Regions from separate parts of the Homo sapiens genome. Here region 1 is linked to region 2. Evidence: fine-mapped expression QTL. A gene starts in region 2. The other region holds a variant in brackets. All regions are shown on one strand. Distances are between the middles of the regions. Region 1 has its middle 14 kb from the start of SPHK1. Region 2 holds the start of QRICH2 (glutamine rich 2).

Region 1 (8,327 bases), 62 kb after region 2:
GTCAAATGTCATTGCACCTGCCCTGAAAGAAAGAGGGAGAGAAGTGAGGGAAGGGGCCACCTTTTGGGGAGAGCTGGTGTCTGTGAGAAAAGGCCTCAATCTTTTTTTTTTTTGAGATGGAGTTTCGCTCTTTCGCCCAGGCTGGAAAGAAGTGGCGTGATCTCAGCTCACTGCAACCTCCAACCCCCAGGTTCAAGTGATTCTCCTGCTCATCCTCCCGGGTAGCTGGGATTATAGGCGCCTGCCACCACACCTGGCTAATATTTGTATTTTTAGTAGAGACGGGGTTTCACCATGTTGGTCAGGCTGGTCTCGAACTTCTGACCTCAGGTGATCCACCCACCTTGACCTCCCAAAGTGCTGGGATTACAGACGTGAGCCACCCCGCCCAGCCCCTCATTTTTCTCTTTCTCTCTCTCACCTGACCTCAGGTGATCTGCCTGCCTCGGCTTCCCAAAGTACTAGGATTACAAGTGTGAGCCATGCCTGAGCAAGCCTCACTCTTTTTTTTTTTTCTTTTGAGACAGAGTCTCGGTCTGTCACCCAGGCTGGGGTGCAATGGCGCGATCTCGACTCACTGCAACCTCCGCCTCCCGGGTTCAAGTGATTCTCCTGCCTTAGCCTCCTGAACAGCTGGGATTACAGGTGCCTGCCACGACACCCAACTAATTTTTGTATTTTTCGTAGAGACGGGGTTTCACCATGTTGGTCAGGCTGGTCTCCAACTCCTGATCTCAAGTGATCTGTCTGCCTCGGCCTCCCAAAGTGCTGGGATTACAGGCGTTAGCCACCGTGCCCGGCCAAGCCTCACTCTTTTGAGAGGACTTGACTGGTTTCTCTTGAAACCAGATGGAGGTTGTAGGGGTTGGGGACACAGTGGAATCACTGTCTGTCAAGTGTGTGGGAGGGCAGGGAAGCACACCTGTGTTCCTGCTGGCTGTCTTGGCTGTGCATTGGCTGCTCTGCCCTGGGGCTCCTGAGGTTTGGAAAGCACTGAGGGCTGGGACCACCCATCCCTTCAGGAGACGTTTTTGTTTGTTTGTTTGTTTTTTGAGACCAGTCTCGCTCTGTAGCTCAGGCTGGAGTGCAGTGGCACAATCTCGGCTCACTGCAACCTCCACTGGAGGGGTTCAGTCAGGATGGTGGGAGAAATTGTAAAATAAACACAAACTTTCTTGGAAGGCCTGAAGGTTTTTGCAAAAGCCTCAAAATAGAGTTATGGCTGAAGGCAGCCTAATCCTCTTTGAGTTATAGCAAGGGTAATTAACACAGGAATGTAGAGGAGTCTATCTAAATAGCTTGTTTACCCACGTGGTCCTAAGACTAACCTTTGACCATCCATGGGTGCAAGATTGCTGTCTACCTGGGGGGTGAGCAATGGTAATTACCTTCTAGTGGTGTTTACTTGAGACGTTTGTCATTTAATGTGTGCTGAACAAATGCCAGCAGGGCCAGCCAGTCGAGGCCATGGCTGCTATTCTTTACAGCACCTTCCTTGGTGTCTGTGAGGGGCCCAGACCCTTAGCTGGACTGACAAGCAGAATATCTGTGTCAGTGTAAGTTATTCATCCGTCGTTGGGTCAGGATCTGCGGGACGGACTCCCCCCACCCCCGCACTGTACCTCCCAGGTTCAAATGATTCTCCTGCCTCAGCCTCCTAAGTAGCTGGGATTACAGGTGTGGGCCACGACACGTGGCTAATTTTTGTATTTTTAGTAGAGACAGGTTTTCACCATGTTGGTCAGGCTGGTCTTGAACTCCTGACCTCAAATGATCTGCCCATCTCGGCCTCCCAAAGTGCTGGGATTACAGGCGTGAGCCACCGCACCTGGTCCCCTTCAGAAGATGGATGCTGAACCTAAGGGCCCAGAGTCAAGTCTAGAGTATGGTCGAGTCCAGAGTATGGGAATCCCAGTCCTGCGGATTACGGGACTGGGAGTGGGGGTACCCTCTCAGAGCAATATGGCATGAGGCCACCTCCTGGAGTCAGCAGAACGTGTCACCCAGGGGAGCCGCTTAGGAGACCGCCTCTCATCAGCAGGCCTGAGCAGCTGTCCCTTGGCCACACCAAATCAGTAGAGCCCTGGTTCTCAGTCAGTGGCAAGTGTGTCCCGCAGGGGCATTTGGCAAGGTCCGGAGACATTTTTGGTTGTCACAACTTGGGGGCTGCTACTGGCATCTGGTGAGCAGAAGCCAGGGACGCTGAGGAACAGTGCACTGACAGGCCCCTGCCGCAGAGAATGAGCCAGCCCCAAACATCAACAGTGCTGAGCTTGAGAAAGCCTGGTCTCTGCAACAAAGCCCCCAGCAAGGGGAAAGCAGCGCCACCACCCATCAGGCCCTGCGGGAATCACATCTGCTTTCAATTTCTCTCCTTCCTGCCGCAGCCTCACAGAATCAGCACAGGGATGGGGCGGTGGGGGAAGAGACGTGCCGTGTCTTCACCCCAGTGTTGGCGCCTGTGCTGGGAAGGGATGAGGGTCTTTTGAGGCAGGATTGACTTTTTTTTTCATTTTTTTTTTTTTTTTTGAGACAGTCTCACTCTGTCGCTCAGGCTAGAGTGCAGTGGTGCGATCTTGGCTCACTGCAACCTCCATCTCTCTGGTTCAAGCGATTCTCATGCTTCAGCCTCCTGAGTAGCTGGGATTACAGGTATGCACCTCCACACCCTGTGCTAATTTTTGTATTTTGAGTAGTGATGGGGTTTCACCATGTTGGCCAGGCTGGTCTCGAACTCCTGACCTCAAGTGATCTGCCCACCTTGGCTTCCCAAAGTGCTGGAATTACAGGCGTGAGCCACTGCGCCCGGCACTAGGCTGTCTTAATAGCAAAACATGGCTAGAAAAATGTGGAATCATACTGAGTGCCCTCGTGGGGAATCTTATGCTCAGTGGAAATGGAGATTTCGAACAAACAGAGCTGGTGGTGTTTATCAGAGAAAATTAAACCTTTTGTTAATGTTCACTTTAACAGGACATGTGTCCTTCATGAAACTGGCTACATATGTGCATCGCTTAGCCCGGGGCCGGCACAAAACAAGAGCTGGATAAACGTTAGCCGCTTGTATTGAGAGGGAAGTGAGCCGGTGGTGGTGCTGCATGCCTGTAGTCCCAACTGCTTGGGAAGTGAGGCAGGAAGATTGCTTTAGCCCCAGGAGTTAGAGGTTACGGTGAACTAAGACTGCGCCACTGCACTCTAGCCTGGGCGACACAGCATGAACTGCTCTTCAAAAGGCGGTGGGGATTCTAACTCCTGTCCCTGGAATCTGGGTTGGTCTCAGTGACTTGCTTGACCAAAAAGTGGTAGAAGGGACATTCTGGGATGTCTGAGGCTCAGGCATGAAAAGCCTTGCAGCTTCGGCCTGGGTCTCCTGGACTGACTACTCCTGGGACATTCCCTCCTGGAGCCCTGCCGCCATGTCACACAAGGGGCCACACTCTGGCCAGCAGCCCCAGCTGAGCTGACAGCTGACAGCCAGCGCCTGTTATCATCGCCATGGTAAGGAGCTGTCTCAGATGTTTAGCCCCGCTGACGCTGCAACCACCGGAGACTCCAAGTGAGGACCACCCAGCTGAGACCCATCAGCCGGCAGCCCACAGTGGGGGTTAGTAAATTACTGCTTCAGGCCACTGCACTTTAGGATGGTTCACTACTCAGAAGCAGATAATGTGAACACTTCCCCAGGGAGTCAAGTGCTTTCAGAAACATATGCTGTTTTCTTGGATGAAAAATTGTCTTTCTAGTGATTATCCAGGAAGGGTTCACACAAATGGGATATCAGGGCTGGTGGAAAGACACGAGTCGGACACCGTTATGAGCCCAAGTTCCAGACTGTGCATAGAGCCAACTCCTAAGCCAGGTAGCCTTGACCTGAGAGCTTCCCAGCACCTCCTTCCCCTTCCCCACTGACCCATGGCTTCCTCCTTCATTCTCCTCTTCTCATCATTCCTTTCCCATTCCTTCACACATTTCAAGCTGCTATTCCAAAACTACCACCATGGAAACACGGTCAGGTTCTTAGAAACCTAACCCATATTGGGAAATAACAGTGCGGCGAGAGGTGGAGGCAGCAGGAAAATTCTAGGCTAACATCCTAGCTGGCCACCAGGGTGCGGTCTCAAAGTCCTCATGGTAGGAAGGTAAGTTTATCTTCATTTTACACACTAGGGAAAATAGACTCCCTCAGTAATTAAATACCAATTAGCTCTTAAGAAAAATGCATTTTCAAAATTGTATTACTGTTCAACAGGGAAATAGGATTTAATTTAGCTTTTTTTTTTTTTTAATTCACAAGAGCGCCTGCTTTGACACCACCTAGCGGGAGCCACTGTAGGAACGGCAAAGCCAGGCCTGACCCCGCTTCTCGTAGAGCCTGGGTGGCAGCCAGTGCTGTCACTGTTCCCACATTCCCACGCCGGTGTCTGGGAGGATGTGGGGAGAGATTATAATAGTA[T/C]GTGTCATTTCTGCAGTATGCCTGATTCATTTCCAGATGTGAAATAGTCACTGGGATCACTATAGTTCCTAATGCCTTTCTTTTTTTTTTCTTTTTTTGAGACAGAGTTTTGCTCTTGTCACCCAGGCTGGAGTGCAGCGGTGCGACCTCAGCTGACTGCAGCCTCCGCCTCCTGGATTCAGGCAATTCTCCTGCATCAGCCTCCCAAATAGCAGGGATTACAGGCGCCCACCACCATGCTCGTCTAAGTTTTGTATTTTCAGTAGAGATGAGGTTTCGCCATGTTGGCCAGGCTGGTCTCGAACTCCCGATCGCAAGTGATCCGCCCGCCTCAGCCTCCCAAAGTGTTGGGATTACAGGTGTGAGCCACCGTGCACGGCCTAATGCCTTTCAAGAAGTTTTCTGTGGCAATTACACAAATCTCCCTGAATCCTTATTTAGTTTGTTCATCTACTTGGAAAACAGCCTTCCTTTATACTAAGTCAGTAGTTCCCAAACTTGTCTGTACCTTAGAATCACTGGGGAACTCTGGAAAATTCCAGACCAGGCTGGGTACAGTGGCTCATGCCTATAATCCCAGTACTTTGGGAAGCTGTAGTGGGAGGATCACTTGAGCTCAAGAGTGGCCAGCCTGGGCCACATAGTGAGACTCTGTCTCTACCAAAAAAAAAAAAAAAAAAAAAAAATTGGGCACAGTGGCATGCCCCTGTGGTCCTAGCTACTCGGGAAGCTGAGGTGGGAGGATTGCTTGAGCCCAGGAGGTTGAGGCTGTAGTGAGCTGTGTTTGTGCCTCTGCACTCCCACCTGGGTGACAGAGACCCTGTCTCAAAAAAAAAAAAAAAAAAAAAAAAGAAAGAAAGAAAATGAAAAATTCCAGAGCAGTGAGTGAAGTCATAGTCATTGGCAGTGGGGCACAGGCTCTGCAGGTGATTCCTACGTGCTCCCTAGTTGGAAACCTCAGTGCTAAATGACCCCAGAAGTAGATGCGGCCCTCAGCCATTCCCTAGGCAGGCACCCTTGTGTGCATCTGTTGCCTTCTCTCCAGAAAGCAGCTTTTCTTAAGGGATAGCCCGAGGCCAAACTCAGGAGTCCTCTTAGTACTTACCACATCCGAGCGTGGTGGCACGCGCCTGTAGTCCCAGCTACTGGGGAGGCTGAGGCAGGAAAATCACTTGAACCAGAGAGACGGAGGTTGCAGCGAGCCAAGATTCCTTTTTAAATAGCGGACATTTTAAATAATAATAATAAAAAGAAAAATAAATAATCTGTGGTGAAATTCACATAACATCTTAAAGTGCATAATCAGTGGCATTAAGTACACTCACAACGTTGTGAAACCACTACGTCTATGTAGTTCCAAAACATCTTCATCACCCCAAAAGGAAATCCCATGCCCAGTAAGCAGTTCTACCTCATTCTCCCTCTCCCCAGAGTCTCTGGCAACCACCAACCTGCCTTCTGTCTACAAATTTGCTTATTCTGGACATTTCGTAGAAATTGACTCATACAATAGGTGACCTTTTGCATCTGGACTCTCACTCTGCGTCATGTTTTCGAAGTTCATTCACGCTGTAGCATGTGTCAGGACCTCATTCCCTTCTATGGACAAATAATATTCCATTGTGTGACTAGGCCACATTTTCTTTATCCAGTCATCCATCAACATTTGGGTTGTTTCCACCTCTTGACTATTGTGAATAATGCTTCTATGAACATTCCTGGATGAGTTTTTGTGTGGACATGTTTTTATCTCTCTTAGGTACAGACCAGAACTAGAAGTGGAATTACTAGGTCATATAGTAACCCTATGCTTAATTTTTTAAGGAATCTGAGTCTCTCATTCTAAAAGACATTTTTCTCAAGCACCGGTTGGTAAATCTGGCTTAGTTTTCCACATCTGTGAAGACCATTTTCATGGGTGACATGCCAGCCTTCCTTGAGCATACGTGACACGCAGGCTGTTGGTTTAGAACTAGAATTAGGTTCCTGCTGTTCTGCTCAGGGTCCTTGCAGATGAGAAACCCCTGCCACACTGCCCTCCTGCAGCAGCCGTCACCCAGACAGCCACCCAACCATGCTTCTTTTTTTTTTTTTTCTGAGACGGAGTCTCGCTCTGCTGCCCAGGCTGGAGTGCAGTGGCACGATCTCGGCTCACCACAAACTCCACCTTCCAGGTTCAAGCAATTCTCCTGCCTCAGCCTCCCAAGAGGCTGGGACTACAGGCGCGCACCACTATGCCCAGCTAATTTTTGTATTTTTAGTACAGATGGGGTTTCACCATGTTGGCCAGGCTGGTCTCGAACTCCTGAGCTCGTCATCTGCCCGCCTTGGCCTCCCAAAGTGCTGGGATTACAGTCGCGAGCCACCGCGCCCGGCTCCAAGCATGCTTTTAAAAACTAAATTGATCAGGTGTGACTCATGCCTGTAATCCCAGCACTTTGGGAGGCCGAGGTGTGCAGATTGCTTGAGTCCAGGAGTTTGAGACTAGTCTGGGTAACAGAGTGAGACCCAGTCTCTAGAAAAAATACAAAATAAAAAAAAAAGTAGCTGGGGGTTGTGGTGCGTGACTGTAGTCCCAGCTACTCAGGAAGCTGAGGTGGAAGGATTGCTTGGGCCCAGGAGGTGGAAGTTGCAGTGAGCTGGGATAGCGCTACTGCACTCCAGCCTGGGTGACAGAGTGAGACCCCATCCGGAAGAAAAAAAAAAAAAGATTTGAGGCGGAGGTTGCAGTGAGCTGAGATGGCGCCACTGCACTCCAGCCTGGGGTGACAGAGCAAGACCCTGTCTCAAAAAAAAAAAAAAAAAAAGACTCAGGCCTCCGAGACAAGCACGCTCTTCAGCGTCCTGGGCTTTGCTGTGGCTCCTGGCTCCCGCTCAGCCTTTCCCAGGCGGCATGCTCCTATACCACTAAAGGCTGCAAATTGAGGTGACAGATCTGCTAGTGGGACTGCACATGCCTCTTCCCTCAGGAATGACACGCCTGCCAAGAGCTGAAAGGAGGCAGAGCCAACCCTGAGTTTATCATCTTTTGCAGTTATTGAGTGTTTTCTTTCTTTAGAAGCTCAAAATTCTCAATCTGAGAGTCAAGTAATGGCAGATACTTGTCACACGGCAATTGGAATCGGAACTCGGTCTTTTTTTTTTTAGGCGGAGTTTCGCTCTTGTTGCCCAGGCTGGAGTGCAGTGGCGCAACCTCAGCTCACTGCAACCTCCGCTTCCCGGGTTCAAGCAATTCTCCTGCCTCAGCCTCCTGAGTAGCTGGGATTACAGGCATGTGACACCACGCCCAGCTAATTTTGTATTTTTAGTAGAGACGGGGTTTCACCATGTTGGTCAGGCTGGTCTCAAACTCCTGATCTCAGGTGATCCGCCCGCCTCAGCCTCCCAAGATGCTGGGATTATAGGCGTGTGCCACTGAACCCAGTCTTAAATGGTTTGTGCTTGTTTGCAAATGCCGCACGTCCTGATGCTATAGATTTTTCTAGGCCATGCAGAGTCACGAAGACTGATGTGTCTTTTTAACTCTGCATTGGGACCATCTGTACCTCAAGGGACCCATCAGCCTGCTGTGCCCAGCCAGGAGGAGGTGGAGTGTTGGACGGTGCCTTTCCTGGCCCTCCATTGCTGCAATGCACCCGGCTCCCTCCCTGGGGTGCCGTGCTGCATCTGCCAGCGATTCCAATGGGAGAGGTCTGCCTGCGGGCATTTCTTGAGGATTTTTGTGTGCAGAACCTTGCTGATTATAGTTCTAGGGAAGATGCGAAAAGAGAAAAGAAAAGGTATGTCCTCCAGCCACTTGTATGCTCCTCACTGATCTGAAAGGAGCACTCTCTGGGCCCTCTCAATTTTTTTTTTTTTTTTTTTTTTTTTTTTT
Region 2 (8,327 bases):
GACCAGTGAAGGTTGGGCAGCCAGTTATCTGTCCCATGTGAGCACCCAGCAGAGCGCTGGGCAGGGCTGGGGCAGATTTCCCTCCAACCCTGGGGCAGAGACTTGAGAGGCAGAGGGCACACACTGCCTGCCCTGGATGGACAAGCCCTGGAGAGAGGGCCACACTGAGAGACGGCCAGCCCCCTGGAGAGCCCTTTCCCATGGAACTGGCTGGTATTACCAGGAATTGCTCCCGATCTTTGAATAGCTTCTCTAGTTCATCAACCCGCTGTAAAAGTACCTGGAAGAAGAGTTCAGGAAAGGAGAATGACAGTGGCCCCTACACACGCACACTCACATGCACACACACACAGATGCGCACACACACTCTCACACTCAGACACACACATGCATACACGCACATTCACACACTGACTCAGTGCCAGGAGACGAGGAAAGGGGGAATTTGTGTGGCTCTTATGGAAAGGGAGGGTTTCTTCTTCTACTTGGGTTTTTTTGGTTTCCTTTTTTTTTTTTTTTTGAGACAGGGTCTTGCTCTGTCACCCAAGCTGCAGTGCAGTGATGCCACCACAGCTCACTGCAGCCTCAACCTCTCAGGCTCAAGCGATCCTCCCACCTCAGCCTCCTGAGTAGCTGGGACTTCAGGCATGCACCACCACATCCAGCTAATTTTAAACATTTTTTTGTAGAGATAAGATCTTGCAATGTTGCCCAGGCTGGTCTTGAACTCCTGGGTCCGAGCAATCCTCCAGCCTCGGCCTCCCACAGTGCTGAGATTACAGGCAGGAGCCCCTGCTTTCTACCTGGTTTTTACCTGGCCAGTCAGCCCAGGCTCCTGGGTCTTTTCCCAGCCAAGTGCAGGAAGGGAAGTGAGATGCAGTGGGGGACCTGGCTGGTAGCATGGCAGGAGTAAGTGCTGCTGCAGGGATGGGACCCTTTGGTCCTGGGATTCAGTTTGCTCCAACCCACTTGTGAAAGCCTGTAGGATGAGGCCCACCTTGCCTTACAAGGAAGGAAGGGTGCCAGGTACCTCAACAGTAGCTGAACATCTGTGCTATCTAAAGAGAAAAGCACCTCAAAAGAACCAAAGCAAATCGCTACAACATAAGGTGCTATCATATTTGGGATTAAGAAAAAATATATTAATAAACAAAAATAAAACAAGTTACTTTTTATAACTTTTGCAAACTTCTAGAATCTAAGATTACGTAAAAATTAAAACAAAAGGCCAGGCGCAGTGGCTCTTGCCTGTAATCCCAACACTTTGGGAAGCCGAGGCAGGAGGATCACTTTAGGTCAGGAGTTCGAGACCAGCCTGGCCAACACGGCAAAACCCCATCTCTACTAAAAGTACAAAAGTTAGCTGGGCATGGTGGTGTGCACCTATAATCCTAGCTACTCGGGAAGCCGAGGCAGGAGAATTCCTTGAACCCAGGAGATGGAGTTGCAGTGAGCCGACAATGCACCACTGCACTCCAGCCTGGGTGACAGAGTGAGAATGTGTCTCAAAAAAAAAAAAAAAAAAAAAAAAACCCAAAAAAATTAAAACAAAAAAAACCCCCACCACACTTTAAAGTTTGAAAAGGAAAGCAGACATGCTTCCCAGAGCAAAAGTGAGTTGGTGCTGCGGTCTCGAGACCTGGGGTGATATGGCAGGAGGGCATGAGCGGCCAGGGCTCCCCTGCTGGGGCTTGGCCTCTTCTTCCTGCCTCTTCCCGGCCTCTTTTTCCCCTCCTGTCTCTCCTCTTGGCCTCCCCACCCAGCTGCCTTCCTAGTTGCTTCTGCTTTTTCTTTCAGAACCAACCTAAGGTGGCTCTGAGACATGCACGTGTCTATTACCTCCTGGCGCTGACCTGCGTTGCTTCCTGCTGTTCACTGGACAATACTTATACTCAATGATTACATGCATTTGTCCCTCCAAGAAAACAAAAGTCCAGTTGAAGGCAGGGCTCAGTGGCTCACGCCTGTAATGCCCAGCACTTTGGGAGGCCGAGGCGGGCAGATCACTTGAGGTCAGGAGTTTGAGACCAGCCCCGCCAACATGGTGAAACTCCTTCTCTACTAAAAACACAAATATTAGCCAGGCGGGGTGGCGCGCGCCTATAATCCCAGCTACTCGGGAGGCTGAGGCAGGAGAATCGCTTGAGTCTGGGAGGCGGAAGTTGCAGTGAGCCGAGACTGCACCACTGCATTTCAGCCTGGGTGATAGAGTGAGACTCCTTCTCAAAAAAAAAAAAAGTCCAAGTGAAACGGTCCCCTGCCTGCTGTGGCTTGTGTCATGGCCATAGGAAGCTGAGGTCCAACTCTCCATCCTGACTCCCCTTCTCTGGGAGCCTTTGTCCTCAACACGTATCTCTTCATGTCCTTATTCATTTTAAAAAGGGAATTCACTCTAAGAATCTTCTGAGAAGTTGCCGGCCCCACTCTGAGCCAGCTCTGGGTCCTTGGATGTCTGATAAGTGGTGGGCGAACCTCTCCCGTAAACAGGGGCTAGGAAGGAGGGGGTGGGATGGGGCCACTACACTTAGGAGGTGGGGTCCCCAGGCCCCTCCAGCTCGGGGAGGCCCTAGGCCTTTTGGTGGCGTTCTTTTAGGATTTTCACGTCTTGCAGCCCCGTGGACTGCAAGGTAGAGCATGGGCCACTCTATTTAGCCAGTCGCACTGAGGTCTGGCACCTCCTCGGTCCCCATCCCCTCCGTCCCCACCACCGCTCACCCCTCCAGGGTGGTGGGGACTCGGCTAGGCCTGGAGGGCGGCCTGGAGGAGGCAGACGGCCTGCGCGTGCCTCCGTGTGCGTGCTCACCCTGGCAAAGCTGAGCTCCTCGGCGGCGTCCTTCATGATACTCCCAGTCCGCACCCTATCGAACGCCCGCACGCCCACCTCCTGCTCCTCCGGCCACTCTAGCGCGGCCAGGTCAAGCCCGCTGGCCTGGGAGAAGTGCTGCACGTGCGTGGCGATGCCCTGCACCTGGCCGTCCACACGCTTGAGCTGCTTGCTCAGGTCCTCCACCTGGCCGCCCAGGTCCTTCACTTGGCTCTCCAGCGCTGACGAAGGCGCCTGGCCCACGCCCCTGCGCTTCTCCCGGGGCGCCCCCTTGGGCACCTCCTTGGGCGCGGGCAGGTGCGGGATGCTGAACGAGCTCCGGACGGACTGCAGCGAGCGGCTGGGCTCGGGCGACGAGGGCTGGAAGTCGATCCGGGTATTTTGGAGGTCGAGGTTCTTGAGCATGGCCACGATGAGCGTGTGCAGGGCCGTGAAGTTGACGGCGCCCACCTCTGGCGTGCCGATGGAGAGGTCCGCCAGCTCCCGGAGGGAGACCGTGGTCGCGGGCGGCATCGTGGCTGTCAGGAGCTGTGCGCCGCCGCGGGGCGCCGGCCAACCACTTCCCGCTCACTGCACGCCGCGCCTTGGGGCCTTTCGGGGGCCCTGCGAGGTCCTCGGGGCGCCCCTGCCCCGGGTCCGGCCGAGTCACTGGACAGAGCTCCTGCCTCCAGGGAATCTGCGCCTCCGCTCCCCGGCGGGGTCCGCGATGGCCACCCCTCCGCTGTCTGTCGCTGGCCTCGGGTCCCCGAGCTGGAGCCCTGGACTCCCAGTCCCCGCGCCGGCGGACGTTTGAAACGTGGGGGCCCCCGCGTGCCCTGAAGATTCCACGTAACAACACGCCTCCCTGCGAGCCACGGGGGCGGGGGGAAGTAAAGGCCACCACAAGGATCACAAGGGGAGCCTTGGCAACGGGCTGAGGAGGCCTCCTAAGATCCAGCTAGACTCCATCCATCCCCTTAACCTAGAAAGGCCAGGATTCACTCACTCTTGGCGGGGCCACATAAGGAAAGACTTGAGGGTTTCCTGGCAACCATGCTTTGTGTCATCAGCTGCGTCCATTCCAGAGTGGTGGCCCCATGTCTATGGCCCCATGTCTAAGGGATGCAGTCCTGGGGCCCTGGTCCCCTCAGACAGTCCACATATTTTGTTCAATCAAAGGTGAAGCAACTTGGAAAAGACAACCCACTCACTATTCAGGCAGTTCCAATTAGCCACTAGATGACTAACTGGTGGCTAATTGTCCCTTTTCTGTGCTGCCATAATTTTTTTTTTACTTTTGAGAGGGAGTCTTGCTCTGTCGCCCAGGCTGTAGTGCAATGGCACGATCTCGGCTCACTGCAACCTCTGCCTCCCGGGTTGACATGATTCTCCTGCCTCAGCCTCCCGAGTAGCTGGGATTACAGATGCGTGGTACCATGCCCGGCTAATTTTTTGTATTTTTAGCAGAGACGGGGTTTCACTATGTTGGCCAGGCTGGTCTTGAACTCCCGACCTCAAGTGATCGACCCACCTCGGCCTCCCAAAGTGCTGGGATTACAGGTGTAAGCCACCGCGCCCAGCCTGCCATAAATTAATTGATCTCAAAAAAACGGCCAGGCTTGGTGGCTCACACCTGTAATCCCAGCACTTTGGGAGGCCGAGGCGGGTGGATCACCTGAGGTAAGGGGTTCAAGGCCAGCCTAGCCAACATAGTGAAACCCCTCTGCTAAAAATACAAAAAATTAGCCGGGCATGGTACCGCGCATCTGTAATCCCAGCTACTCGGGAGGCTGAGGCAGGAGAATCGCGTCAACCCGGGAGGCAGAGGTTGCAGTGAGCCAAGATCGCACCACTGCACCCCAGCCTGGGCGACAGTGCAAGACTCTGTCTCAAAAAAAAAAAAAAAGAAAAGAAAAGAAACCACTCACCTGGTCAAGCGCCTGTGCTTGAGCTCATTACAAAGCAGGATTAAACAGCACGAGACAAATCTGGTGTTAACAATTGAGACATGACTTCCCCATACAAGATTCTTCCCAAAAACGTATAAATAAAACTTCCTAACAGAAGCACAGCAAGGCTACTTAAAGAGAACCTATGAATGTGTGCCATGCATGGCCAGCCTCCTCCGTGAGCTCTGCATCTGCAGATTTAACCAACCACGACTGAACACGTACAGATTCCTGTCATGATTCTCTAAATAATACAGCATGACCACCATCTACACAGGATATTGCAGTAGGTATTACAAGTCATCCAGGATGTGCATAGCTTATATGCAGATACTACACCATTTTCTATCAGGGACTTGCACATCCATGGGCAGGAGGTTGAGTCCTGGAACCAATCACCCATGGATTGTAAGGAATAACTGTACTATTTTAACTACTGTTCAAGTTCAGATTTTTCACTTCAGCCTGAGAGGTACTGTTTATTTAATTGAAGGATTTTCGATCATCATTATATTCCAATAACTTGGGACACAGTAGGCCTTTAAGGGGTTATCAAAATAACTAGTTCTTTGCAGTCTTTTTTTTTTTTTGAGATGGAATCTTGCTCTGTCACTTGGGCTGGAGTGCAGTGGCACAATCTCAGCTCACTGCAATCTCTGCCTCTTGGGTTCAACCAATTAATTCTCCTGCCTCAGCCTCCCGAGTAGCTGGGATTACAGGCGTGCACCCCCTCCCCCAACACCCGGCTAATTTTTGTATTTTTAGTAGGGACAGGGTTTCACCATATTGGCCAGGCTGGTCTCAAACTCCTGACCTCAAGTGATCTGCCCACCTCGGCCTCCCAAAGTGCTGGGATTACAGGCGTGAGCCATGATGCCTGGCCTCTTTGTAGTCTTTTTATGCTTTTAACTTAGCTAGGCTAATTTTTGTATTTTTAGTAGAGACGGGGTTTTGCCATGTTGGCCAGGCTGGTCTCAAACTCCTGACCTCAGGTGATCTACCTGCCTCGGCCTCCCAAAGTGCAGGGATTACAGGCATAAGACACGATCCCTGGCCTGTTTTTTTTTTTTGAGACAGGGTGTTGCTCTGTCACCCAGGATGGATGGCAGTGGTACAATCATAGTTCACTGCAGCTTCAACCTCCTTGGCTCAGGCAATCCTCCCACCTCAGCCTCCCAAGGTAGCTGGAACTACAGGCACATGCTACCAATGCCTGGCTAATTTTTGTATTTTTTGTAGACATGGGGGTTTCGCCATGTTTCCCAGGCTGGTCTGAAACTCCTGGGCTCAAGCAATCCTCCTTGCCTCAGCCTCCCAAAGTACTCAGATTATAGGTGTGAGCCACCACACCTAGACTTTTTTTTTTTTTTTTTAAAGATTTAAAATACAGTATTCAACAAGGATTTAGCTTCAACACTTAGGAAGAGGGTGGAACCTGGGAAAGTGTTTGTGTCCAGCCACAGACCTGACTGCTGTTCTGTATCCATGGTCTTCTGCTGTCTAATGAAAAGACTAGCAAGACAACAAATTATTTTATTTGCAACTTCAGAGCCACTCAGATACCCAGAGGTGGGATGCTATTTTCTAATCTGACATCCTTGGAAGATGTAACAACATGAATGCTTCATTTTTCAATGGCTGTAGGCATAACAATTTCTGAAAGAAAAATACGATTCTCTATAAAAGACTTGAAGTTGATTTGGGAGAGGCCAACTGGATAGTAATAGGGCCACAGGCGCTCAGCTTCCCTAACCAGGTTCAACATCAATACCTCCATTTCCCTGGAGCTGAAACAACTAAATGAACATTATAGAGTTAAGACTTTATGTGCCTTTAACTCCTCTTTAGTATCAATAAGATTTTCAGATTATTTTTAAGAAAGCAGCTAGAACTTTTAAGGAACAGGGCTGATGACAGCAGACATGTAAGGCCATGTTATGATATTTATCCATTAGCTCTGTCTTCTTCCTGACTCTTTTAATCCCTCCTCCCCATCAATCCGGGCAAAAGAAGATATCTAACTCCAGGCTGTTTCGAGTCCTCCCTTGCAAGGAAACACTGTATCACTCATGGCACTGCTTTTTCCATGTTTCCCTCAGGAGGTCCAGGGTCGAGACCCTCGTGAAAGCTAGTCATCCACAGTGATGTTTCGGAAAAGGTAGGCCATGGACTCTCCATTGTGGATTCTCCGAATGGCTTCAGAAAGAATCAAACTGATATCCACAGTCTTTATCTTGGGACATTGCAGCTTCTGAACCTCATGAGGGACAGTATTCGTCACCACCACCTAGTCACACAGTGATGGAAAACAAACGCTGTTACTGAAGTCTGTTCTCCAAGCTGGTTACACAGAAAAGCTTATCTAACATTGAGTTCCCACAGCCTAAGTTCCAAACTACAAAACCTTGTTCCACCGAGTATAGTTTTTATAAACCAAAATTAACTAATTTTATGCAAAGGAAAAGTTACATGGCCTCAGAACACAAGACAAAAATCTTAGGAATGGCATGGTCTCCATGCAGAAACACAGTGAGCCCCAGTGCTATGCAAAACTCTCAGATCATAAGGGAAGAATTCCAGCCTCAAGAGAAATGCTCCTAGGGTGTCAAATTAAAGTACCCAAGCAAACCGTTATGCAAATAGACATATACAGACCCTCAACATAACTCTCAACTTATGACAGGGTTATGTCTGGATAAACGCATCATTATAAGTTGAAAATATTTTAAGTAGAAAATGCATTTAGGCCGGGCACAGTGGCTCATGCTTGTAATCCTAGCACTTTGGGAGGCCGAGGCAGGTGGATCACCTGAGGTCAGGAGTTTGAGACCAGCCTGGCCAACATGGTGAAACCCCGTTTCTAAGAAAAACACAAAAATTAGGCCTGGTGGCCGGCGCGTGTAATCCCAGTTACTTGGGAGACTGAGACAGGAGAATCGTTTGAACCCGGGAGGCAGAGGTTGCAGTGAGCCGAGATTGCCACACTGCACTCCCAGCCTAGGCAACAGAGCAAGATTCCATCTCAAAAAAAAAAAAAAGCATTTAATACGCCTAACCTACTAAACATCATTAACTTGGCCTAGCCCTACCTTAAACATGCCCAGAACAGTTACATTAGACTGCAGGTGGCAAAATCATCTAGGGCAAAGGCTTTCATTTTATAATAAAAGCGATTATTTTAAAATAAAGTGTCTCAAGTAATTTATCGAATACTATACATTACATCGTAATTGCAATGGTTTTGCATCATCATAAAGTCAAAAACTTCTAAGTTGAACCATGGTAAGTCGTGGACTATCTGTATTCCTAAACATGTATCTGTCCCAACGAACTGCTAGCCAGCAAAAGCTAGAAAAGCTATAGACAGATTAAGCAATTTAGTATTGACTGAATCATTTTATTATTCCCAGAAAACACAGCAGTAAATCTTGGCTCAAGATTTAGAAGCAGCCTGACCTCGTCTACGGAGGACTCCTCAATCAGGCGAGGGGCCTCTGCAGACAGGATGCCGTGGGTGGCCATAACATAGATCTTATAGGCGCCTCTCTCTTTCAGGATCTCCGCGGCAGCAACAA

What was found.
Region 1: its variant is fine-mapped to the expression of QRICH2 in fibroblasts (GTEx, PIP 0.93).

What each region holds. Positions count from the first base shown.
Region 1 is chr17:76,366,446-76,374,772 of GRCh38, forward strand. No RefSeq gene overlaps it. Among named protein-coding and RNA genes, the nearest start is that of SPHK1, 14 kb to the right of the region's middle. RefSeq lists enhancers at 1,708-2,208, 2,209-2,709. The variant T/C (reference allele first, on the strand shown) is at 4,454.
Region 2 is chr17:76,304,662-76,312,988 of GRCh38, forward strand. QRICH2 (glutamine rich 2) reads right to left here and starts at 3,615. Exons shown (of 19, transcript NM_001388453.1): 1 at 2,804-3,615; 2 at 221-280. The coding sequence starts at 3,337. It overlaps PRPSAP1 (phosphoribosyl pyrophosphate synthetase associated protein 1), which reads right to left. Exons shown (of 10, transcript NM_002766.3): 9 at 8,209-8,327; 10 at 4,817-7,039. The coding sequence ends at 6,881.